Regions from separate parts of the Homo sapiens genome. Here regions 1 and 3 are each linked to region 2. Evidence: fine-mapped expression QTL. A gene starts in region 2. Each other region holds a variant in brackets. All regions are shown on one strand. Distances are from middle to middle.

Region 1 (9,743 bases), 65 kb after region 2:
AACTCCTGGGCTCAAGCAGTTGGCCTTCCTTGGCCTCCCAAAGTGCTGGGATTACAGGTGTGAGCCACCGTGCCTGGCCTGGACTCATTGTCTTAAATAGGGGGTTGTCCAAGGGTTGAAGAAAAAGATACTGACCATATTATTTGAAAAGCTGACTAATACACTGTTTAAAAATAAGTTTACCCAGTGTTTCCCAACTTTTCAAACTTCTTTTTTTTTTTTTGGTTTTTCTCTCCCTGTTTTGTTTTGTAACCTAAGGAAGCAGAGGCTCTGAGACCACACACAGCAGCGTCGCCCGTCCCTAGAGGCACGCCGGCAGGGACCAGCAGGAGAGGAGACCCCCGTTCCTGCGTGCGCAGTTGTCGCCCCGCCACGGTGCTCTCCGCAGGGGTGAGGCAGGAGGGTGGGTGGAGGCGCCAGCCTGTCCTCAGCTGGAAGGGCGGGGCGTGGACAGGGACGGTGGGCAGGTCACCAGCGGGACGCGGGGAGCCTGGCCACTGTTACACGGCGGTGCGCGTGGGTGTGCCGGGCTGGTTCAGCCCCAGGGTTTTACACAACTAGCAGGCAAAATCCGCTTCTTTCACCTCGGACCGCTTGATGAAGGCGTGGTTTGTGAGCATCTTTAGGTCCGCCCGCTCCGTTGGGTTTTTGATGAGGCATTTATTGACAAACTCCTGGAAGTCGGGGGTGAACACACCGTTGGGCAGCTTAGGAGGCGGCTCTTTCACAATATAGTCCAGCAGTTCGAAGATGGCCATGGCGGGCAGGCTGTCCATCCCGTAACCGCTGTTGGGGCGCCCGGGGGACCCTGGCCAAGAGGAGATGCTGTGAGGCTCTCCTTCTTCCCTGTCGACCACGGGCTGGCCAAAGATGGCCTCCAGCTCCTTGGCGTCGGGCGGGGGGATGGGGTACCTTTCGATGGCCAGCTCCACCAGGGACAGGTCCATGCTCCAGATGACCGACTGCACCGAGTAATGTGTGCCCTGCAACCGCTCCGGAGCCATGTAGGAGCGCGTGCCCACGAAGGAGTTGGCCATGGAGTCGATGAGCTGGCCGCTCACCCCGAAGTCACACAGCTTGATCTCCCCTCTAGAGTTCACGAGGATGTTGGAGGGCTTCACATTTCGGTGCATGATCTGGTGCTTCTCTCGGAGGTACGCCAAGCCCCGGAGAACCGCAATGCTGACTTTCCCCAGGATGTCCTCGGGAATCCTCTTGGCCTCTTTCAGCCCCTGGTCCAGGGAGCCGCCATCCATGTGCTCCATGCAGATGCTGATCTCCCTGTCACAGTAGAAGGCCCCGTAGAAGCCCACGATGTACGGTGAGTTGCACTCGTGCAGGACCTGGTGCTCGCGGATGATCTGGTTCCGGATGGCCGGCTTGATCTCAAGGTGGATCAGCTTCCTGGCCATGATGAGGCCCGAGGGTCTGTGCTGGACTTTGGTGACCACCCCGCCGTTGCCCGCGTCCAGCTCTGAGGTCCTTTCGAAGTCATCGTCTTTGAGTTCGCCGACCTTGGCTTTCTGGGTGAGAAAGGCTTCCAGCCGCTTCTGCTGCTCGTCAAGTTCCAGCTCCTCCAGCTTCTTCTGCAGGTCCACCAGGTTTGCCTCGGAGGCGCCCTCGCTGGTTGGGGACGGGCCCTCGGCGATGGTAGGGTTGATGGTGAGCGCCGGCAGCATCGGCTTCCTCCGGGCCAGCATCCGGGCTCCGCGGGCCGGTGGCGGCGGCGCCTCTAGCCTGGGCCCGTAGTGGGCGGGCCGGGAGCGTTCGGCGCCTACGCGAGCCCGGGGCTGCGACCGCGGCCCAGGCCGGCGTCGGGGCGGCCGAGGGCGGGCGGCGCTGCGGGCCTGGTCCGAGGGTAGCCGAGGGGCGCTGGGGCTGAGGCGAGCGAGCCGCCGCCGCTGCCGAGGCCCGAGGGAGGCTGACGCTGCAGCCGGAGTCCAAGAGCTTTTCAAACTTCTTATATTTTAAATGTGTTAATTCATTTAATCCTTAAAACGATGACATGAGGTAGGTACTATTATTATCCGCACTTCACAAATGAGGAAACTGAGGCAAACAGAGGTCACCTAGCTTGCCCAAGGTTAAACAGACAGCCACATCCAGAAAGCTATAGAGTCTGGCTTTAAACCCAGATAGACCAGCTCTAGGTCTGTGATCATAACCACTGAACTTTACTGCTTCTTACAGCAAGAGTGTATCTGACGAAGTCGTGACTTGGAACTGGCCAAGTCTAGGAAGGATCCAGAGTTTAATTCTGAAGAAGGGAAAGGAGGCTGATATTAAACATGCAATATTTCCAGGCTGTGCTCAGATCTTCATGTAGCTCATTTATGATTACAGAATACATTGCTAAAGAAAAATGGTAAAGAAACGATACTCGTATTTTGAGCAAATCCCCCTCCTCAGACTCCATTTCTAATTACTGCCATTTTCTGAAAGAGTTGTAAGCAATAAATTCTAACTCTGTTAGAAGAGAAGAAAATGTACTGCTCAGGAAGAGTCCTGCAAAACAGAAAAACTTCAAGACAAGCTTAAGCAGTGGTTGCAGATTTATTGCACATTACATTATTTGGATGGACAGGTGAATTTTCTTTGTCCCATAATGTCTTAAAATTTTTGAATTTGAGCTGGGCACGGTGGCTCATGTCTGTAATCCCAGCATTTTGGGAGGCCAAGATGGGAGAATCACTTGAGCCCAGGAGTTCAAGACCAGCCTGAACAACATAGAAAGACCTCTGTCTCCACAATTTTTTTTTTAAAAAAAATTAGCTGGGCATAGTGGTGAGCACCTGCAGTCCCAGCTACTCCGGAGGCTGAGGTGGGAGGATCATTTGAGTCCAGGAGTTTGAAGCTGCAGCGAGCTGTGATCATGCCACTGTACTCCAGCCTGGGCAAGAGAGCTAGACCTTGTCTCAAAAAAAAAAAAAAAATTGAATTTGAATGCTTTTAGCTTGAGCTTACTCTCTCCAATTAGCCATCATCTTTACCACTCCTAGTTACAAACACTATATTACTTCCCTGGACCTAGTAGGCATGCATAGAGGGAGATAGAGATCATTTGTGCAACTAGAGTGATACAGCCAATGAGTAGTCAGTAAAGAACGGAAATTAGGGGCACGCCATTATCAGGGACAGGTCTGTTAGAATCCCATAAAAAATTCCAGTTGTATTCAACCTCCACTGACAATGACGTGGTTCCAGATCACAGTGGATGGAGGAGACTCACCATGCAGAACTGAGTGACGCAGCAGGAGTAGCATCGTGGCAAAGGTAAGAGGTGAGGCTGTGCCAACCAGAACAGGCTGTATTGAGGAGGAGCAAGAAATAAGGTTGGAGGTGTTCGCGAAGGGTTTCAAAGGGCAGGCAGAAGAGTTCAGATTGTGTGAGGTGGAAAACAAATAAGGTTTGTTATTTGGGGCCCTGGAGTGCCTTGGAGATATCCTGTCTCTGGAATATCTGGAATTGCAACGGGAGTAAGAAGTTAGAAGAGCGGCTGTAGATGTGAAGAGGAGGAAAGGATCCAGGGGAATCGAAGTGAGGAGGTTGGCTTTTGTCTGTAGAATCAGGTCTGGTCAGAGAGGAAACTGGGCAACGCAATCATGATCTCAGGGGAAGCATCATGATTTGGTGGAGTTGAGACTGGGGCCGTGGACTGCAAACAAGGGGTTTGGGGATATTTCCTATCAGGAGCAGTCTCACATCCATATAGGGGTAGGCCACTGTGCACTTTTTATGTGAGAGGTTCCATAACGTTTCTCTTCCCTTACTTCTCACCCTCACCAACTTGTCTGAAATTCCCACCATTCTCTAATCCAATTCCCATTATGGTTAGGTTAAGGTGTGGAATCACTATTTAAAATTCAAATATAGGCTAGGTGCAGTGAGTGGCTCACGCCTGTAATCCCAGCACTTTGGGAGACTGAGGCAGGAGGATCACTTGAGGCCAGGAGTTCGAGACCAGCCTGGGCAACATGGCAAAACCCTGTCTCTACTAAAAATACAAAAACTAGCCAGCCGTGGTGGCTCACACCTGTAGTCCCAGCTACTCCGAATGCTGAAGCACAAGAATCGCTTGAATCCGGGAGGCGGAGGTTGCAGTGAGCCAAGATCGCACTACTGCACTCCAGCCTGGGTGACTGAGACACTGTCTCAAAAAAATAAAAATAAAAATAAAAATAAAATATTAAAAAGAAAATGCAGAAAATGCAAAGATTTCTAGGAGGGATACCCAGACCAATATCTGCACTTCAAATCTTAGAAGTTAAACATTTATCAAGACATGATTCTGTACACCCTCCATTCAAGCCACCAGAAATCTGAGACAGAATCTCATGTGTCTGAGACTCGACCACTCTGATTTTGAAGTGAAATTATTTCAAATGCTTAAATGGGTAGCACTGAGTGTTTGTCTGTTATTTTTCCAAGCCCAGCACCTATTCCCCGTTCTGGTACCAGCATGCTAGATTTCCTTTGGGATGCCACCCCACCTCCTGTCTCAGGCTCAGTGAGCATGGGAGAGATCTACCCTTCCACCTGGCAGGTGGAACGCCGGACTCTGTTCTGGCCAATCAGAGCCCAGGGATGGTTATGCGCTCTAACTTGGTCCAGTCAGAATGAAGCCTCTAATTTAGTTGGGGAGGAGGACCATTACTGAAAGGGATTCCCTCTCTCTTTTGCTGGGACCCCCTGGGATTACAGATGACCTGCAGCCACTGGGGGCTACCCCAGGGCTCCTGAGAGAGAAGGTAACACTGAGGAAAGGTAGAGCTGAGACAGGGTTAAACCAAGTCCCAGTGACATAGTTTGAGCCACAAGATCAGTGGTGCCTGAAACAAGCCCTAACCTTAGACTTTTCAGTTATGCGAATCAGTGAAATTGTGTGGTTGTTGTTTGTTGGTTTGGTGTTTTGTTTCATTTTGTCTAAGTCAGATAAAAATGGATTTTCAGTTATCTTGAAACTGAAAATCTGCTGACTGGCACGCCATCCCGCTGGCTTGTGTGCTGTGCACATTAACAAGACTCACCTTTTCTTAGGATTCATCCTATGTGCAAGATTACCAGGATGTAGCCAGATTCAGGATGCCTGTTTTTATAGCTTAGCTACAGAGTTTTTCTTCACCTCTAGCAATTGCCTATGCCCTTTCAGCGGCCTCAGCAGGGAGAAGCACAGTGGGACTCCTTGAAAGGCAGATCCAGAAGGCTGGTTATGTGGACAGTTCACCACAGTTAACTGGGGTAACCACAGTTGGCCTGGGCAGTCCAGAAGCAGATGACCCACCCCCATACTGTGGGCAGCTCTTCCTGCAGTGCTTAACTCCAGAAAAAAACCCTCCACCAGTTCCTTACTAAGGTGGTAAACAACCCTAAGAAATCTGGCTCTCTAAGCTTGGGACAGCCAAGAAATGAGTCAGCCTTCTGGAGAAACCCCCCTTGCCACAGCCTGTGCTTCCCCATTTCTGCC[AGGGCCC/C]CAGCCCCAGCCCCAGCCCCCATGTCAGTAAAGCCTATGCATTTCTTTCAAGAGCATGACAAAACCTCATATCTGAAAAGCACTGAAGTGCTGTACCTCTTTCAAAGTACTTGTGCATTCATTATCTCATTAGGATACCAGATTTGCTATTTTTTTCTTCAGATTCTTTTTTTTTTTTTTTTAACTCAAATCCAGCAGAGTTTTTTCATGTGGTTCTCAATGAGACTTGAGAAGAGAAAATCAGAATTCAATCCAAAAGCACAGCTTTTCTAGAGACATAAATATAATCCTCCTCTCTCATGCCAAAAATAACAAGGGGGCAGAGGTTAGATTCTAGAGGAAAGAACATTGAGTGTGAACTGAAACCTTTCTAGTTACAGATCTACCACTAAGTAGCTGTGTGACCTGGACAAGCCCCTTAATCTCTCTGCACTTCAGTTTCTTCCTTTGTAAAATGGCAGCATTGAGGCTTCCTGGGAACCCTGGCCTTGATATTTTCTAAGCATCTTTGAAGCTCTGAGGTTTTATGGCTCGGTGAATTGTAGAATCTGAGGAGACTGATTTATAAGCAAGTTGGCACGTTTTTTAAGCCCAGTCATTCCTTTGGTGTGTGCAAGGGAGAGCCCCTGCTCAGAGTGTCAGGAGCCATAGCACATTGGGATGTAGACTGAGCATGGCCCACTTCCCAGAGACCCCAAGGCCTGCCTTAGGCCCACCTCTGATGGTGGTGGTTGGTTGGTGGTGGTTAGTTGGTTAAATGAAGGGTGAGATCCTGACCACTCACTAAATGCTGAACTCTTGATAGATTAGGAGGAAGCTCTGCTATCTGTGGGATGAGGCACAGCAGATGATGTGGTTTGGCTGTGTTCCCACCCAAATCTCATCTTGAATTCCCACATGTTGTGGGAGGGACTGGGTGGGAGATAATTGAATCATGAGGGCAGGTCTTTCCCATGCTGTTCTCATGATAGTGAATAAGTCTCATGAGATCTGATGGTTTTAAAAATAGGAGTTTCCCTGCACAAGCCCTCTCTGTGCCTGCTGCCATCCATGTAAGATGTGACTTGCTCCTCCTTGCCTTCCGCCATGATTGTGAGGCTTCCCAAGCCATGTGGAACTGTAAGTCCATTAAAGCTCTTTCTTTTGTAAATTAGCCAGTCTCGGGTATGTCTTTATCAGCAGTGTGAAAACAGACTAATACAGCAGATGTCAGATTGGTTCTTGGAATGGAAGGTAAGCGAACTCTAGTGTTTACTGAAGACAGGGCCTATGTAGGGATTGGCAGGGTAGGGTGGTAGGCCCTATTTAGCAGTACAGAGACTGACCCAAGGCACTTTTCTTGCTGAGTTCAACCTTCTTTTGCAACCCTTTCTTCTGGCAAGTGCTTTCTGCCCAGTGGGGAGGTGAAAGGGTCCCTCACCTTCATGAACCCCTTCTGTGTGAATATACCCTCCAATAAATCCTGGCTCTTCTTTCCATTTCCAATGACTACTTTGAGAAATTAGGATGTCAGTGGTTCATCTTGTCTCATGCAAGCCTGAATTATGTATTCTTTAAGAACAGTGACTATGATCCATCAGACTGTCTTCCACCTGTCATTCAGCATGGCTTTGGCTCTGAACTCTCCACCAACCTTTTTCCTTCCCTGCAACACACACATTCAAAACTAAAATAACCCATTACCACCACCACTAACAACCCCCCCCCCCAACCATCCCATTATAGATCATATCCTCCCAGGAAGTTTTTCTTTGTTCCTAAATTAATTCATACCAATGTGGTGATGGCCACTCAGGCTTGTTACTTGTCTACCTGCCCTACCACGACTCTAAATATGTATTTCCATTTTAACAGGAGATGTTGGATCCAATTTGTCAAAAACTATCTCATTAAAGGAACAAACTTGTTTCAGCATCAGACTTATGATGTGATATTTTTGTCTTAATCCCTCAAAGTACTGAGAGAAGGTTGGGTACTAGTGAAGTCAGAGCTATTAGGGGGCACCCTGGCTAATCAGGCCTTCCTCTGGGCCAGCAGTGCCATCCTATTTATACCTACAGTTTTAGCATTCAGAACAAAATCTTACTACACAAAGAAATTTATAGATTTAATGCAATTCCTATCAAAATACCAACGACATTCTTCATAGAAATAGAAAAAAAATCTTAAAATGTATATGGAACCACAAAAGACCCTAAATAGTCAAAGCAATCTTGAGCAAAAAGAAAGCTGGAGGCATCACACTACCAGACTTTAAAATATCCTACAAAGCTGTAGTAAGCAAAACAGCATGGCGCTGGCATAAAAACAAACACATAGAACACTGGAACAATAGAGAACCCAGAAATTAATCCATGTATCTATAACCAACTGTTTTTTGACAAAGGTGCCAAGAACCCTTATTGATAGTCTCTTCAATAAATGGTTGAGGCAAAACTGGATATTCATATGCAAAAGCATGAAACTAGATTCCTGACTTTCATCCTATACAAAAATCAACTCAAAGTGGATCAAAGACCTAAATGTAAGACCCAACCCTATAAAACTACTAGAAGAAAACATGGGGAAATGCTTCAGGACATGGGTCTGGGAAAAGATTTTATAAGACTTCAAAAGCATAGGCAACAAAAGTAACAATAAACAAATGGGATTATATCAAACTAAAAAGCTTCTACACAGCAAAGGAAATAATCAATAGAGTGAAAAGACAATCAACAGAATGAGAGAAAATATTTGTAAACTATTCATCCAACAAGGGATTATTATCTAGAACATACAAGGAATTCAAACACTTCAATAGCAAAAAAGCAAATAATTCAATTTAAAAAATGGGCAAATGGGCCAGGCATGGTGGCTCACACCTGTAATCCCAGCACTTTGGGAGGCCAAGGCAGGCAGATCATTTGAGGTCAGGAGGGTGGATCACTTGAGGTCAGGAGTTGGAGACCAGCCTGGCCAACATGGTGAAACCCCCTCTCTACTAAAAATATAAAAAATTATCCGGGTGTGGTGGTGGCACATGGGTGTAATCTCAGCTACTCGGGAGGCTGAGGCAGGAGAATGGCTTCAACCTGGGAGGCAGAGGTTGTAGTGAGCTGTGATCGTGCCACTGTACTCCAGCCTGGGTGACAGAGCAAGCCTGTCTCAAAAAAAATAAAAATAAATAAAATAAATAAATAAAAGGGCAAATGATCTGAACAGATATTTCTCAAAAGAAGACATACAAATGGATGGTCAACAAATATATAAAATAATGCTCAATATTACTAATCATCAGGGAAACACAAATCAAAACCATCAAGAAGTATCATCTCACTCTGGTTAGGATGCTATTATCAGAAACACAAAAAAATAACAAATGCTGGTGAGGATGTGGAAAAATGGAACTCTTATTCACTGTTGGTGGGAATGTAAACTAGTACAGCCACTATGGAGAAGAGTTGGAGGTTCCTCAAAAAACTACAAATAGAACTACCATATGATACAGCAATCCCACTACTGGGCATTTATTCAAAGGGAAAGAAATCAGTATATCAAAGAGACATCTGTGCCCCTATGTTTATTGCATCACTATTCACAATAGCCAAAATATGGACTCAACCTAGGTGTTCAATAACAGATGAATGGATAAAGAGAATGTGGTATACGTACACAATAGAACACTATTCGGCTATTAAAAAAAGAATGAAATCCAGTTATTTGAAGTAATGCGGATAGAATTGGAGCACATTATGTTAAGTGAATTAAGCCAGGAACAGAAAGTTAAATACTGCATGTTCTCACTCCTTTGTGGAAGCTAAGAAAAGTTGACTTCATAAAAGTAAAAAGTAAAACAGAGGATACTAGAGGCTTGAAGGGCAGAGGGAAGTGGGAGTTAGAGAGATGTTTATTAAATGATACAAAATTACAGCTAGATAGAAGGAATAAGTTCTAGAGTTCTATACCAGTGGTCCCCAACATTTTTGGCACCAGGGACTGGTTTCATGGAAGACAATTTTTCCACAGACCAGGGAGTGGGGGATGGTTTCAGGATGATTCAAGCGCATTACATTTATTATGCACTTTATTGCTATTATTATTACATCGTAATATTAATATGTAATGAAATAATCGTACAACTCACCATAATGTGGAATCAGTGGGAGCCCTAAGTTTGTTTTCCTGCAACTAGACAGTCCCATCTGGGGGTGATGGGAGACAGTGACAGATCATCAGGCATTAGATTCTCATAAGGAGCCTGGCATGTGCAGTTCACAATAGGGTTCGCACTCCT
Region 2 (10,730 bases):
ATCCTCCTGCCTCAACCTCCCAAAGTGCTAAGATTACAGGTGTGAGCCACTGCACCCAGCCTATACATATATATATATATATATATATATATATATATTTTTTTTTTTTTTTTTTTTTTTTTTTTGAGATGGAGTCTCGGTCTGTCGCCCAGGCTGGAGTGCAGTGGCGTGATCTCGGCTTACTGCAAGCTCTGCCTCCCGGGTTCCCGCCATTCTCCTGCCTCAGCCTCCCAAGCAGCTGGGACTACAGGCACCCGCCACCATGCCCAACTAATTTTTTTGTATTTTTAGTAGAGACGGGGTTTCACCCTGTTTGCCGGGATGGTCTCGATCTCCTGACCTCGTGATCCGCCCACCTCGGCCTCCCAAAGTGCTGGGATTGCAGGCGTGAGCCACCGCGCCCGGCCATATATATCTTTTTAACTGACTCTGATTACCAGCCAAGTTTGGAAATAGCTCTAAGGAAATTCTTCCTGATCCGTCCCTGAAAATAACCCACCATCACCAAAAACATTCCTCCTCTCAGCCCTCAATTCAATGTGTGAGAGGCAAACAAGAAATTCCTCCCAGCCTTTGTCTCTCTCCTACTTACCTGCAAGTGGGCAAGGTGACAGGGCCACACACTTATGTACCACACAGAGCACAGCAGTGGTTAAGGAGGCTACGTGCTGGCTCTCAGGGACCTATCGCCACTGCCAGCTGCAGGCCTCTCTGCTTTTTTGCCCCACTTACTAAACCAGGTTTGGCCTAAGGTGGACCACGGCCTGGACATTATGTTTGTCTGGTCAGCTTGGAATGCCCGGGAGGAGGCATTTCCAGCTGTAAAGGGGAGAGATGCTAAGTGACTGAAGAAGCCTGAGGCCAGAGAGATGAAAGACAGAGGAAAGACCTGAGGTCTATACAGACCTAGAAATTGGACCAACCTGAGCTATAAACTTCCTCAGTCAATGGCATCCTTCCAAAGCCTCAGTAGTCAGGGCCAAGGAAGCACACAGTGGCCACCTCTCTCCAGCAATTCCTATTTCCAGATCTGCTGAGAATCTCCACATAGATGTCCAATGAGCATCTCTAATTCACACGGCCAAAATCAAAGCCACACCTCCTGCCTAAACTTCTTCTTCCTCTAGCATTCTCTATCTTAGTGAAAGGGAATGGCACCACCTTCCATCCAAGCCTGAAACCCGAGGCCTCCTGCTCACTGAGGCTCCACATCTAACTCATCAGTGCCCTATGAGCACTACCTCTGAAAGTTAGTGGGATCTGCCCACTCCCTCTGTCCTGCTACCCAGTCCCAACCGCCATCGTCTCTTACTTGGGCTACTTCAACATCCCCTGGTCAAGAAGCCAGGCTCCAGGCTTTCCCTGCTCCTATGGCTTCTTCACACCATACCCAAAGAGATCCAGCTAAAATGCAAAGACAATTACATCTCTCCCTTGCTTAAAATCTTTCAATGGCTCCTTATCATCCCCTGGATAACATCCAAACTTAATATGAGGTATAAATCCCTTTATTTTCTAATTCTTTAGGTCTTATCTCTCACAATTCCACCCCTCACACGCTTTGATCCAGTTCTACTGCAACTCTTATACTTTCTTTCAAAGCACCAAGCCCTCCTACCTCTACACCTTTGTACATGCTATTTCCTCTTCCTATCCCTTCAAACCTCAACTCTCCCTCGGCCAGGCAATTCCTGCTTATGTGTCAAGTTATGGGTTAAATGCCAGTTCTTCTGGGATGTTCCTTGGGTCCTTTATGCTTTTTCAGTACCCTAAAATGCCACAGTACCTTTCACAGGTATTTCCAAAGCCTGTTGAATTATCTGTCTTCCTTTTTTTTTTTTAGAGGCAAGGTCTCAGGCTGGTCTTAAACTCCTGGTATTGAGCAATCTTCCCGCCTCGGCCTCCCAAAGTGCTGAGATCACAGGTGTGAGCACCATGTCCAGCCTGTCTTCTTGATGACAGAGGATCATATCTGTATTCTTCATCCTTACATGCGCAGCATGTGACATACAGCAAACATTCAATACATAACTGAATGCATGAATAGAAGCATGGCTGTGTACTCAGTACTCACAGGCTTTGAAAAAAAGTGAAGACCCAGTTCCTACATTCAAGAGTTTACCGATGAAGACAACCTAGATCACCTTCATCCTTCACCCACAAAAACACCCCTAAGAGCCAGGTAACACTGACCCTGTCTAATGCAAAATCAAGATCATTAACTCGGGACATGATAAATCACTTGCCAGAGGCTACCAGCTGACCTGGCTGTGATTCTCACACGAGGCTTGGGTTCACTCTACCTACTCATTACCCAGCTCAAGCCAACACCTGCTTCTGCCCTACTTGCAAGTCCCAAGCAGAAAGAGTGCAACCAGAACACATATGGAAACAGGAATGAGCTGAGGGATGGTGGTTGGTGGCAGAGAAGAACTCATAGTGAACTAATGGAACTAACGGTGCTGGGCTCAGTGCTGGCATCTCTGTAGGACCCTGCCCTGCCAAAAGGCACAGATAGTGAGATTTCAACCTGCACAACCTGCAGATGGTACTAATTGATACATGTTCCAGCTTAAACTACTTCTGTCTGCTCAGCAGCTGCTCTCAAGAGTATGGGCTGGAAAGAGGTTCATACCCTTCCTCCTTGATCTGATGGTAACTACACAGAGGCAACATCAAACATGCATTTAACTTGGGAAAATTAAACCATGGGTCCTTGCACAATCAATAAAGAGAGGGACAGAAAGATTATCCTCTGACAGCATGAGCAACTCAGAACTGGGTGAGATTCTAGTGCTGAGAGATTTGGACTTTCCACACAGCTGGCTCCTAAACTCAAGTCTCATTTTGGGTGGTGCTCAAAGCAATCTTGCTTAATCTCACTTTGGTGTTCTTTTTATTATTATTATTATTATTTCAGTCTTTTGCATGAATGTAACTTTAAAATTACAATTATTTTATCTTCTATGTATACCCATTCTTATATATGAGTATACATGTAACACATGTATGCAAACATCGTAAAAGAAGTGTATATGCAAAACCACATCCACCTTACACTATGGTAATCTGCAGAGTTTTCAAAGCCACTGTTGTTTACACATGATTTCTGTCTAATGTGCTGTGCTGACTTTAGAACCTGATCCCCAAAAAGGATGCAGCTCTTCCTCATGGGTACCATGGATACCATCCTCCAAGTTCCTCCTCCAGCATCTGCACCAAGCCAGGAACCTTATGGCCTTGTCCAACATCTGACAAAGGCCGAGAACTTGTCAATGACAGGCGGCCTACATACACTCCCTACATTAGGGTCCTCACCAGCCCCCTGGGCAGAGCTAAGAGATGGGGTACCCCAGCCCTGTCAAAAGAGGGAGGCTCCCAGTTCTGCTCCTGGCTCCTGGTTTTCTTTTCTTTTTCCCAGGACAGTTTTAGAATCATACTGGCTAGAAGCGAGGGCTGATAAGGCCAGCTCCCTTCCTCAGCACCCTCCAAGCCTCATCTAGAAAAGTGACAGGTGGGGGAGAGTATACTCCACACTGCTAAGGAAGGACATTTGGGTTCAGTGTGCAGTTTTTCAGACTCTGCCACTCCAGTGAGGGGGCTTTGGGACTTCAAACCACCATGGAAGTGTCCACAGGCTCTCAACACTCCAGACTTAAGCGTCCTTCCACAGCCCTGACCAGCCTCGGTAACCAAATTTCCAAAGAAAACACAAATAACTGTTAGAAAGGTCTTATTCCTTCATAACCTCCTGCATGCGTCAGAGGGCCGGTTTTTCAGATGCACAAACTGAATGAAATCTCCCGTGAAAGCCAGACAAGATCACAGTTCTCTAGGCTTCATTCCTGTCTCCCAAATCAAGATTTCCAGAACTTTCTGGTTACCTTTTAATAATTCATCACTAGGGAGGTTTCTTTTCCTTCAAAACTTCACTCGATCATGTCCCCCTACCCTTCCCTCCAAATGTCTAAACCTCTTCCTCCGTCATCCCTCCCCTTTTCCTCTCCAACTCCAATTTCCCCAGGGTCTTCAACACCTCCTTGAATCCCCCGGCACCCTGCTTCCAGAATAGGTGGAGCATCTCCTCTTCTTACAAAATGTCTTTTCCCGTGGCTTAGAGCCACCTCCTCACGGGCCCCTCATCCCCGCCATCCTTTGCTCACCCACCAGCTCAGGCCCTTTGTGACCCGCTTCGTCAACTTCCTTGCCCTCCTTTTCCCATGACCGAGGGTCCCATCCTGCACGTAACCTGCCCCCAAAGTTTCGGGATCTGTCCCTCCAACTCTCCCGGGTGCTGTCCCCGCCCTCTCCAAAACTCAGGCCTGAGCCTGTTCTTTCCAAGGGTGCCCCCATCTTACCGCGGCACCTCCCGCCCCCCAGACCCGGCTCCGCCGCACTTACCCGACCAGAGCACGAGCTTGCCGTGCGCTTCCTCCTGGGAGTCCGAGTCTCCGGCCAGCAGTGTGGAGGTGGCCCCGTAGGGCAGCACCGAGCCCAGGCACACGTTGTAGCGCAGCGGCTCGCAGGGGGCAGCCCGGCCGCAGTGGCTCAGCGGCGGCGGAGGGCCAGTCACCGCCGCGCTCCTCCTCGCGCTCCCGCCCGCGCTCCGAGGCCCAGGCCCGGTCGCGTTCCCGCTCGAGGCCGCCCCCCGGCCCGGGTCCCCCAGCAGCAGCAGCAGCAGCAGCCCCAGGAGCGGGAGCTCCGGCCCCCGCGCTGGGCGGGCAGCGGCCATGGCCAACCCCGCCAACTCAGCAAAAGCCCCGGCGCCCCCGCCTGCTCCTCGGAGCCCCCCGGCCACACGCACGACCTCGGCGGCCGCGGAGGCGGCTCAGGCGACCTGTGCGCCCAGAGAATCCGGGCCCGGGCCCCCCCGGACGCTCCGCGCGCCCCGGCCCCTCGGCGCCCAACTTCGCAAACTTTGGAACCCGGGGCCCATGTTGGGCTGCGGAGGCCCGGAACGGGATGCACGACTCCCCAAGCCCTAGCCTCGCAATCCAAGTTGTCTTCAGCCCTAGGAGACCCCTGGGCCCCCAATCCCCAGCCCCATTCCCTCTCCCACCATTAAAGCCACCTCCCCGCCCCGCGAGGGAGGCCAGACGCGGGCCGGGGGTGCGAGTGCAGCTCCGGCTCCGCCCCCGCGCCAGCCCGCGGCCCAGCAGCCACCTTCGCCCCAGCGCGCCGCAGCCCCCCGAACTCTCCCCGCCGGCGACCCGGCTCCTTTGTTGCTCTAGCTCGCTGGGCTCTCTGGAATGCACGGGCCTCGCGGAGCCAAGCCCGGCCCCCCTGCGCCGAGGCTGGGGGAGGGACTGGACGAAGGAGCGGAGAGGTGGGGAGGGGAGGCGAGAGAGGAAGAGCGCGAGCGTCAGCGTCCCTGGCGCCTGGAGGGGCCCGGGCTAGGGGGATCTGGTGACCCCGCCTGCCGCCGCCCCGCGCCCGGGGGAAAGAGATGAGTGGAAATCGTGGGCCGGACCTGCAAGGAGAGACTCGGCGGGCACCTTGCTTGGTCTGAGGTCGTCTGCAGGAAGCGGACTTTTCTCCTGGCTCAGGATGGGAAAGACAGGGGATGCCTGAAGTCAACGGGGACTTCTGTTCCATCTCTGCCCCGTTCTCCAGGCCCGCCAGTTTTTCCTGCTTTGGTTAGATTTTCCAACGTATCCCGGGGCCCCATGGAGAAGAACCTGGGTTTGGGGTTTGCGCTTCTCCAAATCCTTCCAGCTCGGGACCTTTGAGAGAGACGACCTCAGAGTCACTCACGGCAGCTGCTCTGGCTGCTGTTACCTGCGGGAACAGGTGTCTGGGAAATAAACTTGCCAACATCAAGCCTTTACTGCTACAAATATGTGAAGTCTGAACTGTGGTTCCCAGGGACTGGCCTTGGTTATGTGAGAAGGAAACCAGTCCTTCTTTGATGGCCCTGCTGCTCATCTGCTCTGGGAGGTTTCTGCTGCTCCTCTTCCCCACTCTGCTCATTTTGCCTTTCCTCACTCCTTTGAGCATCACACTTTTGGTCACCACACTTAATTTCCCACTTCAGCAGTTTACACCTGCACAACCAAGTATAACCCAGCATAACCACAAGGCTCCAAACAGGAGAGTAGACTTGCACTGAGCAACTTTTTCCTTGTTGCTGATCGGGCTGCACACCAGGGTGGGTTTTCCTTTCTTACCCCTGGAAGACTTGCTCATGGCCTAGCGGTAGTGGACTAGTTCTGTTACTTTGGACAGTTTAAGTGCATATTAGTTATTGCACTTCAACTATATCAATTGGAGAGAGAGAGAGAATTTAATTCAATTTAGCAAGTCTTTCTGAAATTCCAGCATGTACATAGCACAGAGACATCCTGGAGGAACCTGTAGACTTCCATTTTCCTGTGGATACATGGCTTGCTCTCAGGAAACATAGCATGACAGAACAGCAACGTTCCCTCCTTCAGGTCAGGGACCTTATCTCATTCTCTTAGTGTTCACAAAACATCTAGTTCACTTGAGCATACATAGTAATCACTTGATAAATAAGCTGCCAAAATGAGATGTACCGTGAGTATGCTATAGGAATAGGGGACAGAGGTCAGTGTGGATAGAAGTGGAGGAGGTGGGTTTTGAATCCAGGACTAAAGTGTGAGTAGGAGGAGTTAGAATAAGGACATAGATAAGTAGGGAAACTGATTGGTAAGAAGCCTCAAATAACACACAGAATTAAGGGTCAATTCTCTTGATAGTAAGGAAATCTCAAAGTTTTGACTAGGGGAATGATATTAATCTTTACTGGTTAATATTAGGTGATATGGTTTGGATCTGCATCCCCACCCAATCTCATGTTGAATTGTAATCCTCAGTGTTGGAGGTGAGGCCTGGTGGGAGGTAACTGGATCACGGAGGCAGTTTCTCATGAATGGTTTAGCACCATCCTCCTCGTGCTGCTCTCACGATAATGAGTGAGTTCTCACGAGGATTGTTTAAAGGGTTTGGCACCTCCCCGCTTCTTCCTCCTGCTCCTGCCATGTAAGATGTCTCGCTCCCCCTTTGCCTTCCACCATGATTAGAAGTTTCCTGAGGCTTCTCCAGGAGCAGAAGCTGCTATGATTCCTGTATAGCCTGCTGAACTGTGACCCAATTAAACTTCTTTTCTTTATAAATTACCCAGTCTGAGGTATTTTTTTTTTTTTTCAGACGGAGTCACGCTCTGTCGCCCAGGCTGGAGCACAGTGGTGTGATCTCAGAGCACAGCAGTGTGATCTCGGCTCACCTCAACCTCCACCTCCCAGGTTCAAATGATTATCCTGCCTCAGCCTCCTGAGTAGCTGGGATTACAGGCACATGCCACCACGCCAGGCTAATTTTTGTATTTTTAGTAGAGACGAGGTTTCACCATGTTGCCCCGGCTGGTCTCAAATTCCTGACCTCAAGTGATCCACCCACCTCAGCCTTCCAAAGTGCTGTGATTACAGGTGTGAGCCACTGCACCTGACCAGTCTCAGGTATTTCTTTATAGCAATGCGAGAACAGACTAATACATAAGGCAACATGAGGATGGCATGAAGTGCAAGAGGCTGGAGACAAGGGACCATTTTAAGGAAAGTCTCTGGTGACTTATGGAAGAAGTGAAACTAGACTATGTCATCAGGGCATAATATTCCTACTGGAAAAATAATTTGAAATGTTATGACCTACTTCAGTTATTTCTTTCTGTGACATAATAAAATGGCTGTTATAACATGTCTAAGTCCAAGCTGTAGAGAAAGCTGCCTTGGAGCCTGATAGCACACCCGATGCTTTGCTTTGTGAACTATCTGCACTTATTTTCTATTTGATTGTGTGTGTGTGTTGTTTTGTTTGTTTTTGCTTTTCTCTTTACCTTCCTGAGTGAGCAAGAGTAAAATATCTGGTTGTGGCAGTCTCGAAGCCCTGTGGGATTTTCCTAATATTTCATGTATTAGGGAAGAACTTACACATGTGCTCAGGCAGGCCCTTATTTCTCTACTCCAAATGTCAGTAGGTAATTCTTCAAGGATATAGGCTCTCCCATTTCTTGTGTGAGGTTTCTCAGGAAGTATGAGGAAGATTCGCATTGTGGGAATATAATACCTTCACATTGGAGATAGCAGAGGTAAATTGAGGCTATCCTAAGACACTATCTTCCAGCCAGAATGCTCTTCCCTTCTTGAGGGGAGAATATACCATAAGTTCTCAATTCTGTGTGTGTGTGTGTTTGTGTGTGTGTGTGTGTACACTCATGCACACATGTGCTCCTATTCATCAGACTTCAGTATTCCCTTGTGGGAATCCTGCTGGCCTAGCAAAGGGTAGCAGGAAGGCAGACTGAGAAAATGCTGCTAGTACTGTCCACAGCTATCAGGCCACGTTCCCATTAGTGACAGCTGCAGCGATGTGCTATCTCCTAGATATAGAAGGAAGTAGAAAGAGATTCAGGAATCCTGTCATTTGAGAGAAGGAAACTGTTCAGTGGGGACTGGGGAGAGGGAATTTCCCAGTCGTTCGTGAATGGTATTCAGGTTCCTGGAGAAAGTTCATGCATCCCCTCCTGTAGACATACAAGACTGCCAGTGTCTGTTAGACTACGCAGAGTGACTTGGCACACTCAGGTCTCCAGCCTGGTGGCAGGCTGCAAAGTGCTTCTCTCCCAAGCAAGCCTGAGCCACACCCCACCCAGTTCCTCAAGAGTCTTAGCCTCAACTGCATGTCCTAACACAATCCTTTTCTCAGGGATGAGAGGCTGTCCTGTGTTGACAATGCATTTCAGTACTTGATTTGTTACAAGTAGCTTCTTGATTTCTGAGTCATTCTCATAAAGTATTTTGGCATTTTGAGGTCACAAATTCAATGTTGACTGTCATTTGCCTGTGGGCCCTCCAGTCAAAGAGGGTTGATGTGAACGTATCCATGGGTATCACTGAGACCATGGCTGCCTCCTGTGGTTCAGTTGTTACACTGGCAAAATTCGGAACATAACTGTTGCAGTGCTCCAATTTTTTTTTTTTTTAGATGGAGTCTTGCTCTGTTGCCCAGGCTGGAGTGCAGTGGTGCGATCTCAACTCACTGCAAACTCCGCCTCCTGGGTTCAATCGATTCTCCTACCTCAGCCTCCGGAATAGCTGGGATTACAGACTTCTGCCACCATGCCCAGCTAATCTTTGTATTTTCAGTAGAGATGGGGTTTCACCATGTTGGCCAGGCTGCTCTCCAACTCCCGACCTCAGGTGATCTGCCCACCTCGGCCTCCCAAAGTGCTGGGATTACAGGTGTGAACCACCACACCCGGCTGTGCTCCAGTTCTTTCTTTTCCCAGTGCTTCCTATTTTGCAATTAAGAGCATTGAGTCAAAGGGAAAGGGCAAAATGGTAAAGGGGCCCAATAAGCAACCTCTTCAGAGAGACAGCACGATAGATTCAGAATTAAGAGCCCTGAGTTGGGCCTTACTAGCCATGCACCTTTGAGCAACTTATTCTGAGCCTCAATTTCTTCCCTCCCAAAAATGAGAAAATTATCCGTTGTGTTTCTATATACCAGTGATGAATAACCTGAAAGGGAAATTAAAACAGTAATACCATTTACAATAGCATCTAAAATAATTAAATACGGCTGGGTGCGGTGGCTTATGCCTGTAATCCCAGCACTTTGGAAGGCCAAGATGGGTGGATCACAAGGTCAGGAGTTCGAGACCAGCCTGACCAACATGGTGAAAGCCCGTCTCTACTAAAAATATAAAAATTAGCTGGGCGTGGTGGTGGGTGCCTATAATCCCAGCTACTTGGGAGGCTGAGGCAGGAGAATTGCTTGAACCCGGGAGCCGGATGTTGCAATGAGCTGAGATTGCGACACTGCACTCCAGCCTGGGCAACAGAGCGAGAGTCCGTCTCAGAAAAAAAAAAAAAGAATTAAATACTTGTGAATAAATCTAACCAAGGAGGTAAAAGACTCATATACTGAAAAGTACAAAATGTTGCTTACAGAAATTAAAGAAGTCCTAAATAAGTGAAAGGACATTTCGTATTCAAGGATAGGAAGATTTAACAGTGTTAGTCAATATAATTCAAATTGATCTACAGATTTAGCACAATCCTTATCAAAATTCCAACAGCCTCTTTTTCAGAAATGGAAAAGCCAGTCCTCAAGTTTATATGAAATTGCAAGGAGAGCTGAATAGCCAAAACAATCTTAAAAAAAAGGACTCACACTTCTTCCCAACTTCAAAATATACTGTGAAGCTACAGTAATTAAAACACCATGGCCAGACACGGTGGCTCACGCCTGTAATCCCAGCACTTTTGGAGGCCGAGGTGGGTGGATCACTTGAGATCAGGAGCTGGAGACCAGCCTGGCCAACATGGACAACTTGTCTCTACTAAAAAATAAAAAATAAAAAATAAAAAATAGCCAGGCATGGTGGTGCGTGTCTGTAATCCCAGCTACTCAGAAGGTTGAGGCAGGAGAATCGCTTGAACCTGGGAGGCAGAGGTTGCAGTGAGCCGAGATTGCACCACTGCACTCCAGTCTGGGCAACAGAGTGAGACTCCGTCTCAAAACAAAACAACACTATACTACTTGCATAAGGGCAGAAATACAAGTCAATAGAAGAGAATAGAGAGCCTAGAGGTAAACCCTCACATATGTGGCCAATTGGTTTTCGACAAGGGTGCCAAGCCCAATGAAAAAAAGACACACTTTTCTTTCTTTCTTTTTTTTTTTTTTTGAGGCGGAGTCTCACTCTG
Region 3 (10,730 bases), 20 kb after region 2:
GAGCTTCCCTAAGCAAACAAAACAGGCTTTACTGTAAGCAGATAGGGAAGCCACGGCTGGAAAGCAGTGCCGCTGCAGAAAGGTTCTGGGATTATAGAGGAAAGGCGCTTCTAGGAGGACTCCTCTTCTTCCTCCTCACCGCACTCCACTCCTTCCTTCTCTTGTTTCTGGGAATAGACTTTCTCCATAATCAGTCCCTGGAGCATAAGAGGGCTGGTACCTCAGCCTCCCTTTGCCTTCTCTTTCTTCATGAGACCAGCCCAGGCTGTGACTAGAACCTCATTCTCAATTCCCAAGTCCCAGGGAAATAACTCTGTTTGTTACTGTTTGGGTTAGGTGCCTGTTGTGGGTTGAATTTTGACTTCTTAAAAAAGATATGTTGAAGCCCTAGACCCCTGCACCTCAGATTGGGACCTTATTTGGAGATAGGGTCATTGCAGAAGTAATTAATTAAGATGATGATACTGGAGGCCAGGCGCGTGGTGGCTCACGCTTGTAATCCCAGCATTTTGGGAGGCTGAGATGGTCAGATCACCTGAGGTCAGAAGTTCAAGACCATCCTGACCAACATGGTGAAACCCTGACTCTACTAAAAATACAAAAATTAGCAGGGCGTGGAAGTGCGTGCCTGTAATCCCAGCTACTAGGGAGACTGAGGCAGGAGAATCACTTGAACCCAGGAGGTGGAGGTTGCAGTGAGCCAAGATCGTGACACTACACTCCAGCCTGGGTGACAGAGCAAGACTTTGTCTCAAAAAAAAAAAAAAAAAAAAAAGATGAGGATACTGGAGTACAGTGGGCCTTGATCCAATGTGACTGGCATCCTTATGAGAAGAGGAAAATTGGGACACAGACACAGAGGGAAGATGAAGAGGGAGGCAGAGTCTGCATTTATACTGCCGCAAGCCAAGGAATACCCAGCTACCAGAAGCTGGAAAGGACAAGGAAGGATCCTCCCCTGGAGGCTTCCGGGGAGCATGGCCTGGTCAACACCTTGATTTCAGACTTCCGGCCTCCAAAACTGTGAAACAATAATTATCTGTTGTTTTAAGCGATCTATTTTTGTGGTACTTTGTGATGGGAGCCCTAGGAAACGAATAGAGTGCCTGAGCTGGATCCAATCAGCTATGCCTAGGGGACCAGGCCTTAGAGGATAAATATGGCTCCTCAAGACTCACCCCTATGGCTTGAGGGGTGGATGCCAGTTTCCAAAGAAGAAGGAATCATTGCAAGTTGGGAAGATACACTGAAAAGCTGTCTACTGTAGCTTCCTAGAGCTAGGACAGTATGATATTCTGGTTTTCTTGTTTGTTTTACTTTAAAATCTTAGCTCTTTTACCCTTCTGGAATGCTTTGCAGTGCACAGTGTGAGGTAGGAATCTGTTACTTATTTTCCACACTGTAATAATTCGCCTAATAGCATTTATTAGTAATTATGATTACAGCTTCCTCTCAACATTGCATTGCTTCTTGTTTATTATATAGTGAGCACCGATGTCCAAAATATTTCTGGAATCCCTTTGCTATTTCCATTCATTTGATTGATTTTCCACATTCCCGATATGGTAATGAGAAGACTCTGGAGGCTTAATTTCCAACTGGAGTTCTAGACCGTGGTTATCCCTTACTTTATTCCCTCCCCTAAGTGCTTTACCTATGATGATTTGAAATATCTAATTGCTCTTATTTTTGGGGGTGGGGTGGGGGTGTTTACAAAACAGAACAGAAGAACTGCTGATGGAAGAAGCTGTGCTGCTTGCTTTGTGTGTGTGTGTGTGTGTGTGTGTGTGTGTGTGTGAGAGAGAGAGAGAGAGAGAGAAAGAGTCTTCTCTGTTGCTCACTGGAGTGCAGTGGGGTGATCACAGGTCTCTGCAGCCTCGACACCCACCTCCCTGCCTCCCACCCCCACCCCTACACACCCCCAGGCTCAAGTGATCCTCCCCACCTTAGCTTCCAAAGTAGCTGGGACTGACCCAGGAGGCTAGATAGCAAGAGACAGTAGAGGCCAACATGTCACCATGCCTGGCTAATTTTTATGTTTTGTACAGACAGGGTCTCCCTCTGTTGCCCAGGCTGGTCTCAAACTCCTGACCTCAGGTGATCCTCCTGCCTTGGCCTCCCAAAGTGCCGGGATTACAGGTATGAGCCACTGCACCTGGCCTGCTCTCCTTTTTGAACCTGGTCTCTGGCCCTGTTAACATATCTGGTCTTCAGGATGAGGATAAGTCAGAAAATAGCCAAGGCTGCGTATTGAACTTCATAATAAATATGTGCCTGGTGCATCATAAGCACTTGATAGACGTTACATAATTATCAGAAAGAAGACCAGAGAACACCTACCTCAAACTCTTGCCAGCATCCAACATCAGCTCATTCCCAAATGCCCCGCACCTGAAGGCATTCATGAGGCTGGAAAGGGGGATGTAATGAGCTAAATCATGCCACCCCAAAAATGTCCATGCCCTAATCCCTAGAACCGATGCATCTCTTTCCTTACATACTAAAAGGGACTTTGTAGACGTGGCGAGATTCATGATCTTCATGGGGGAAGGGCATCCTGGATAATCTAGATGGGCCAATACAATCACAGGGGTCCTGTCAGGGGGCAGTAGGAGAGTCAGAGAAAAAGGAGATGTGATGACAGAAGTTGGAGAAAGGGACCACCCAAAGGTATGCACGCGGCCTCTGGGAGCAGGAAAGATGGATTCTCCCCTGAAGCCCCCAAGAAGGAATACAGCCCTGCTCACACCTTGATCTTAGCTCAGTGAGACCCATTTTGGACTTCTTACTTCCAGAATGTAAGATAAATTTGTGTTGCTTTAAACTACTAAATGTCTGGTAATTTGTAACAGTAGCAATAAAAACCTGATAGGAGGAAATCAGAATTTCACTGAACATTCTGCAAAATTTGCTCTTCTGGGCACAAGTCTTTGTTTAACTGCAGGGCTTAAGGCCCGCAGAACTTAGTGGTGCCTTTCTTGGCATGCCACCCTGGCAGGTTTTCACCATCCTTCAGGCCTTTCTCTCCACCTCTGTGTACCAAGCCTGATTTCTGCTGTCCCCAAGAATCTCCTTTCATTCAACCACCTTTGCGGCCTACATTTGATTAGCTATTCTAAAGTAGTGGTGTCAGAAGCATTTGAACCAGAGCAACTCCATCTTCAATAGGCGCTGGGTAAAATAAGGCTGAGACCTACTGGGCTGCATTCCCAGCAGATTAAGGCATTCTAAGTCACAGGATGAGATAGGAGGTCGGCACAAGATACAGGTCAGAAATACCTTGCTGATAAAACAGATTGCGGTAAAGAAGCCGGCCAAAACCCACCACAACCAAAATGTTGACGAGAGTGACCTCTGGTCGTCCTCACTGCTACGCTCCCATCAGCACCACGACAGTTTACAAATGCCATGGCAACGTCAGGAAGTTACCTTACATGGTCTAAAAAGGTGAGGCATGAATAATCCACCCCTTGTTTAGCATATCATCAAGAAATAACCCTAACAATGGGCAACCAGCAGCCCTTGGGGCTGCTCTGTCTATGGAGTAGCCATTCTTTATTCCTTTACTTTTCTAATAAACTTGCTTTCACTTTATGGACTTGCCCTGAATTCTTTCTTGTGTCAGATCCAAGAACCCTCTCTTGGGAAGGACTCCCGGTAACAGTGTGTGTCTGGTAACAGTGTGTGTTTGGGAGGAGGGTTACTAGAAATAGGTAGAAATTCAAGGAGCAAACATGAAATATAAAACTTCGCGTATTTTCTTCCCCAGCATCAGGCCGAAGAGAAAGAAAGCTACAGACTGAGAATCAGAGACATTGGCAATTTGCAATCTAGCTAGGAACCCTGAACTGCACTATACTGAACATTTGCTCTGTGCGTTATAAAGTCTGGGGCATGGGCAGAAGTTCCCAGCCTTTTAGTCCAGACCCAGGAGGCTAGATACTGAGAGACAGTAGAGGCGATGGTGAAAGTGTAGTTCTTAGTTTTGAAAATCCAGATTTGAATAATCATTCTGAGGATCACGGTTCCTGGTCTTACTTCCTCCAAGGGGCCCCAAACGGAGCCCGCTGCAGGGTGAGCTCCTCAAAGCCGCTGAACCCAGAGGGCGCATCACTCCAACCTCTAACCCAAGACATCGACTTCTGGGTCCGTGTCACTTAAATAAGTTTATAAAGTGCACGTCTCTGGCACTAACCAAGAAAGGCAAGTTAGCAAGAAAGCGCGCTTTTTAACTGTCCTCTCCCAGAATAAAAGGCCCTTACTTTTTATTCTAGATTCTGGATAATTTTATTTTTTCTTTCCGTCTGTTACTAGTTGGGAGCTAAACACTGGCCAGGGTCCCAGCGGCTGCTGGAAAGGCGCCTTCCTAGGAGCAGAAGGCTCGCTTAGGAGACACTGGGGGCAGGGAGCGAACTCGCGGCTCTTTGTCCCCGCAGCAGTTCGGTCGAGGCTATTTCCCGCCAGGCCGAGCCCCTGGTCTGAGCGCCCGATAGCGGGGTGCGGCGAGGAGACTCCGGGAACACTCGCTGGGCAAGCAGCTAGCACAGCCCCCCATCTCCTCCGGGTTGGGGGACGCAGGCGCGGGCCTAGGCCGCCGCGGGGGCGGGGACCACCCACGAAGTCCAGCGCCCCGCCCCGGACGCGCCCGCCCCGCCTGCCTCGCGCGCTCCTCCCGGCGCCAGGAGGCCCAGCGCACCGCGCCGAGCTTCCTCGGAGTCCTCCCTACAGCCGACTCAGGGAGAAGGTCCTGGAGGGCCCGGGTAGGGGAAGAGAGGGCCTTCTTCCTCCTCATTCCCCGTCCCGGCCCCAGCGGAGTGCTCATGTCCCTCCTCCCCATCCCCCTCCTGTTTTGGGTGACAAATTAATTTTAATTAGAAAAACACAGATCAGGTTTTGGAACAAAATTATGCTGTTCCTAGATTGGAACTGGGACTCTTTCGACCTAATTTAGAGCAGAGGGCGAGGCTGTGGGAGGGTGGCAATGCATCGGTTGAAGGAGACGCGCGTGTGGCGGGCAGCAAGGGGGAGGTGTGTGGCGTTTAGGAGAGTCTCCAGTGCCGTCCTCTGCAGGGCCCTTCTACACCTCCCCTTCCAGTTGCCAGAATGGAAAATTCATGGAGTCCCGCGTAGCCCAGGTCAACACGCTTTTATTGCCACTTCTGGCTCCCCTCGTCCCAGCAAGATTCCTACCTCTTACCCTGTAGGAATACTGAGCTCCGATGCAGGGGAATGGGGTGGGGGTGTTACCACTTCTCCTCTGCACACTGCCAAGTTAAAGAAAACCCTGCTTGCTGGAGAGGGAGGGCCAGACAGGGAGGAATTCAAGGGCATGTATGGCTCAGTCCCACTTCTGACTGCAGAGTATAGGGACCAGGGTTCCAAACTTTTTTTCGAAGTAAGGGAGGTGGGGAAGAATTTGGCTGCTGTTGTACCCCGTGTCCTAGCTGCCATGTTTCCATGGAAATGAAGGCGGGGCAGGATGTAGCTCACTCTGACTACCTGGGAGGATGGCAGGACAGGCATTTGGTAAACATATCTCCCTCCACTCCTACCTAGCACATACGGCTGTCCCCAGCCGACCCCCAGGCTCTCTCCTCACTGCCTGCTCCACTCCCTTCCCTTCTGGAGCTGGTATCATGCCAAGTGGAGTCCAGGCAGGGCTGCCAGTGCTACTCTCCACAGCCAGGTCTCACTGGCACGTTAGGATCTAAGTATGTCCGCCAAGCTCAGGAGCATCCCTGCTAGAGCTGGTGGTGGCAGTGCCTCGGTGAAAAGGCAGCAGCAGTACCCCCAACTCTCTGTGCAACTGCTGTTTCCCAAACAAAACTGAAAACATAAACCCAAACACTTAAGGGTATCACTCTGGCACAATGCTGAGGGCTGGGATGGGGGAGAGGAGGCGCATCCTCCTGAGACTGGAGCCACCTGTGCACCCTGCCTTCTGCCCATCTGGAGTTTGCTTCTTCCCACTGGGCTGTCACTGGGGGGCTGGAATCCAAATCTCCATTTGGTGCTGCTTTCAGCACCCACTGCTGTTCGTTTATGAGGCTTGCCAGTTTCCATGGTGAGGAGGTGCAGGATGGATTCTCAGTACCATGGGTCAGCCCGGTGCTGCTGGTTGTAGAGCTGTAGCTTGATCTGATCTTTGATCTGATTCACTAGGATCTGGGACAGCAGAATTCCCACCAGCTGGGAGAGGCAAGAAGGAATTGGGCACTCAGCAGTGAGTGAT[G/C]GCCTTGTTTTCCCTGGCTCGATCTTCCCAGTGCGGCCAGCACTATCCCTTTCCCTACCCCTCAGCCATGTCAGTGCCTGACACCCTCGCTGATCCCCAGGTGCCTTCCCCAAAACAAAGGAGTCTTTACAGAGTGTGTGGGACCAACAAGTCTCACAGGGTAAGTTACCTGGGGGATGGCCAGGCCTAGAGCCACACCACCAAGTAAGAATAGGTTGCTGTGTATCCAGTTGACCAACTTGTCAATACAGCCATTGGTGTAGATGACTTTGCTAGCTTCCAAGTAGTCAAAGGCCTGCATACCTTGGCCACACATAGTGTTGATCACTGCCTGGGGAAAGAGTTGAAAAGCCAATTGGGACTGTAATTCCAATAACTTTTTGTTTGGGGCCTTAGCTGATGGGCTTCCCACCCTTCCCAAACTCCTAAATTGTCAGAGAATATATGTGGAGGATATTGGGTTGGAAGTTGCCAAATGCAGACTTCCCTTCCTCTGAGAGGTCAGGATCCAGGTCTCTTTGCTCTGGGTGGTGGAATAATCTGTACAACAAACCCCTAAGACACAAGTTTACTTATATAACAAACCTGCACAGGTACTGAATCTGAACTTAAAACTTAAATCTGTCCCTTCTGAACTCCATGTGGACTACATGAGTATGAGGTTAATAGAAGCATCAGGTTGGGGTGAAGAAAAACACCTGACAGCTGTCCCACATGACTGATCGGTGAAGCTAGGGGATGGGGATCCCCAGTAGCAGCTGCCCCCATCAGAAAGTGACTCAGCTCGCTGCCTAGGAGGAAATGAGGCAGGATGCTGGCTCACCTGGTCAGGAGTAGGCAAGCAACAGGAGTAAGGCACAGAGCAGCGCTCTCGACTGGGGTTGTCTTCTGAGCAGTTGAAATACATGTTCTGAGACCAGTCCTTGTAGGAAATCCCTCCACAGCAGCTAAACTGCAACAAAACCCACCAGAGGTTAAGAATCACCCACCCCTCACACTGAGGTGACCAGGGGAATTCTCAGAGCCACCAAAAGTCTATAGCAAGCTTCTACTGGGAACTTTAGGTTGTGTTTTAACACAGCCTTAAACTTTGAGCTCCAGCTTCCCAGTTGCCTTCGCCTGAAGATATTCTCACTTCTTAATTTCTATTACTTCGTATATCTTGTTATAACTTACCACTGTGCTTGTTGGTATTACAGTTGTACATATATTTTGTTTTACATACTCAGCTATAATCTTCTTGAGAGAAGTTTCTGGCTTTGCAGGCAAATGGAAGTGATCAAAAGTATTGGCTGAAATAATTACAGTATCAGTGCTGAAAAACTTCTCCTTAAGATAGAGAAAACACAGGGGAGGAATCTTCAATATTGTGAGTCAATCATTACTCCATGAGAGCCAACTGGATCTCAAAGTCAAGTGTCTATTGCACCAGAGGAAGGGGAACTCAGGACTTGTCTCAGAAGCACTTTTACTTAAAAGTTAACTTTTTTGGCCAGGTGCTGTGGCTCACACCGGTAATCCCAGCACTTTGGGAGGCCGAGGAGGGCAGATCACCTGAGGTCAGGAGTTCAAGACCAGCCTGGCCAATATTGCAAAACCCCATCTTTACTAAAAATACAAGAATTAGCTGGGCGTGGTTTGGCAGGCACCTGTAATCCCAGCTACTCAGGAGGCTGAGGCAGGCAGATTCACTTGAACCCAGGAGGCGGATGTTGCAGTGGGCCAAGATCACGCCATTGTACTCCAGCCTGGGTAACAGAGCAAGACTCCGTCTCAGGGAAAAAAAAAAGTTAACTTTTATTTTTCACTTATTTATTTTTGAGACGGAGTCTCTGTCTGTCACCCAGGCTGGAGTGCAATGGCATGATCTTGGCTCACTGCAACCTCCAACTCCCAAATTCAAGCTATTCTCGCACCTCAGCCTCCTGAGTAGCTGGGACTACAGGTGTGCGCCACCAAACCCGGCTAATTTTTGTATTTTTGGTGGAAACAGGGTTTCATCATGTTGGCCAGGCTAGTCTCAAACTCCTGACCTCAAATGATCTGCCTGCCTTGGCCTCCCAAAGTGCTGGGATTACAGATGTAAGCTACCATGCCTGGCCTAATTGTTAACTTTTGATTCATAGCAGCCTTGTTCACAGTAGCCGAACGGTGGAAGCAACCCTTTTCTCCACTGGTGAATGAATGGATAAACAAAATGTGGCATATACATACAACAGAATATTATTCAGCCTTCAAAAGGAAGGCAGTTGTGGCACATGCCAAAACAGAGATGAAACTTGAAGACATGCTAAGTGAAATAACCCACTCAAAAAAGCATTAATACCGTGAGTCCCTTCATTTGAGGTACCTAGAGTTGTCAAATTTACAGACAGAAAGTAGAATGGTGGTTGCTGGAGGAGAGGAAAATGGGGCTTTAGTGTTCAATGGATACAGAATTTCAGGAGAGGAAAATGGGGAGTTAGTGTTTAATGGATACAAAGTTTCAAGAGAGGAAAATGGGGAGTTAGTGTTTGATGGATACAGAGTTTCAAGAGAGGAAAATGGGGAGTTAGTGTTTGATGGATACAGAGATTCAAGAGAGGAAATGGGGAGTTAGTGTTTGATGGATACAGAGTTTCATCTGGGGCAGATGAGCGTTCTGGAGATGGTGGTGATGGTTGCACAACAATTGAAGGTACTTCATGCCACGGATCTGTATGCTTAAAAATGGTAAATTTTACATTATGTAAATTTTATCACAATTTTTTAAATGTAATTTTCTTTTTTTTAGTCTAGTCAAGTGCAGCAGTGAGAAGGGGGGAAAGAGTAGAACAAGGAGTTGGATCTGTAGCTGACTGTGAACAATCAAATGAGATAACTCACTCCCTTTGGACCAGCCTAAAATGTCACTTTTGAAGAGGTAATATTCAAGAATCTGCCCAGTTCCTCACCCCCTGTAGGTAACCATTTATAACACAGTAGATTACTATATATACTGTTCTGTGTCTTTAAAAGTACATTTAAAGCACTCTGCTACGTGTGCTTTTTTGCCAAACCCCTTCCCAGAAGCCATTACCTGGCAGGTAATGAAGAGCCCCACAGGCATAGAGGGTGAGGCATCTCTTGGGATGACATTCACTTTTACCCACAGTCCCCCAGACCACTGGCTGACCCATACCTTTTTCTGGCCAAAATCAATGAGGTTCTGCAGATCCAAGTCATCTCGGTAGTGCACAATGGCATTGTTGATGATCTCACTCACTTTCCCTCGAGCCTGCCGGAGACATGGGCAAGGAATCAGAACACAGGACTAATCCCTAACTTGCTCCTTCCAGCAAAAATAACAGTAGACAGGGATCATCCTTCTTAACTGAGTCTGCCTTGAAATCAGAACCGAGTCCTAATGGTGGAAGATAGCCGGTTCAGTTCCAAAGCCCATCCCAGGGCCCTCAGGTACCAGTGGGCAGGAGAAATGCTGGACCTGCTGTTGAAGCTTTTCAGAGACACATTTCAAGATATACCAATGTGTATCTATCTCTGAATGCTATTATCACAAAATACTTGTTGACTGATAAAAACAAACTAATTTTTAATTTTTTTAGCAGAAAGTAGCTTACTGAGCTGAGGCACTGCCCTCTAGTGGACACTAGATAATTGCATCTCTTTAGACTCAAAACAGAGCTATTTAATACATCATTTCAGGATCTTACTGTAAGCCAGGAGGACTACGAAATTCGGAATTAACTCAGTGGCTCTCGATTTCATAATTTTCTCCCCTCCCCTCCCCTCTCCCTTTCTCTTTTCTTTTCTTGATACAGTTTTACTGTCGCCCAGGCTGGAGTGTAGTGGCGCGATCTCAGCTTACTGCAACCTCCTTCTCCTGGGTTCAAGCAATTCTTGTGCCTCAGCCTCCTGACACCTGGCTAATTTTTTTGGTGTTTTTTAGTAGAGACAGGGATTCGCCATGTTGGCCAGGCTGGACTCGAACTCCTGGCCTCAAGTGATCTGCCCGCCTCAGCCTCCCAAAATGCTGGGATTACAGGCATGAGCTACCGCGCCTGGCCCAATTTCATAATTTTCTACCATAGTCTCTTCCTTCCTGCCCCACTACTTTTCTCAAATTTTCTTTCCTTAGTTTTGTAGTCTGCCCTTGGCAATCATTTGCCTTTTGGGAAAGACATTCTGGTTCTTAAAAAGGACTGTCACTGAATGGCAGACCATTTCCAGATATGGCAAGCATTGTTCAAAACCTTTTATTAAGCCAATCATGGTGGCACATGACTGTAATCCCAGAGACTTAGGAGATGGAGGCAGGAGGATCACTTGAGCCCAGGAGTTCAAGGCCAGCCTGGCAACCTAGTGAGACTCCCATCTCTTAAAAAACAAAAACAACAACCAAAAAAAAAAAAAAAAAGAAAGAAAGAAAAATAAACCTCAAAACAAAATCTTGTTCTCTTCCCCCTTCCTTCCTTCTGTTTATCTCAATAAACAATTTTTAAAAGAAATAAGAGGCTCT

What was found. PIP is the estimated chance that this variant, and not a neighbour inherited with it, causes the effect.
Region 1: its variant is fine-mapped to the expression of SMO in monocytes after Pam3CSK4 (Quach 2016, PIP 0.95).
Region 3: its variant is fine-mapped to the expression of SMO in whole blood (TOPMed, PIP above 0.99).

The regions. Positions count from the first base shown.
Region 1 is chr7:129,118,475-129,128,217 of GRCh38, reverse strand. It overlaps the pseudogene LOC407835. Among named protein-coding and RNA genes, the nearest start is that of TSPAN33, 21 kb to the left of the region's middle. RefSeq lists enhancers at 438-938, 5,094-5,363, 5,814-5,983. The variant AGGGCCC/C (reference allele first, on the strand shown) is at 5,465.
Region 2 is chr7:129,183,154-129,193,883 of GRCh38, reverse strand. SMO (smoothened, frizzled class receptor) reads right to left here and starts at 5,251. Exons shown (of 12, transcript NM_005631.5): 1 at 4,402-5,251. The coding sequence starts at 4,732. RefSeq lists silencers at 4,555-4,814, 5,045-5,314 and an enhancer at 5,944-6,033.
Region 3 is chr7:129,163,232-129,173,961 of GRCh38, reverse strand. It overlaps TSPAN33 (tetraspanin 33), which reads right to left. Exons shown (of 8, transcript NM_178562.5): 5 at 9,393-9,488; 6 at 7,056-7,184; 7 at 6,402-6,563; 8 at 4,263-6,189. The coding sequence ends at 6,088. It also overlaps the pseudogene RNY1P11. Among named protein-coding and RNA genes, the nearest start is that of SMO, 20 kb to the left of the region's middle. RefSeq lists enhancers at 3,197-4,066, 4,136-4,185 and a silencer at 4,556-4,775. The variant G/C (reference allele first, on the strand shown) is at 6,233.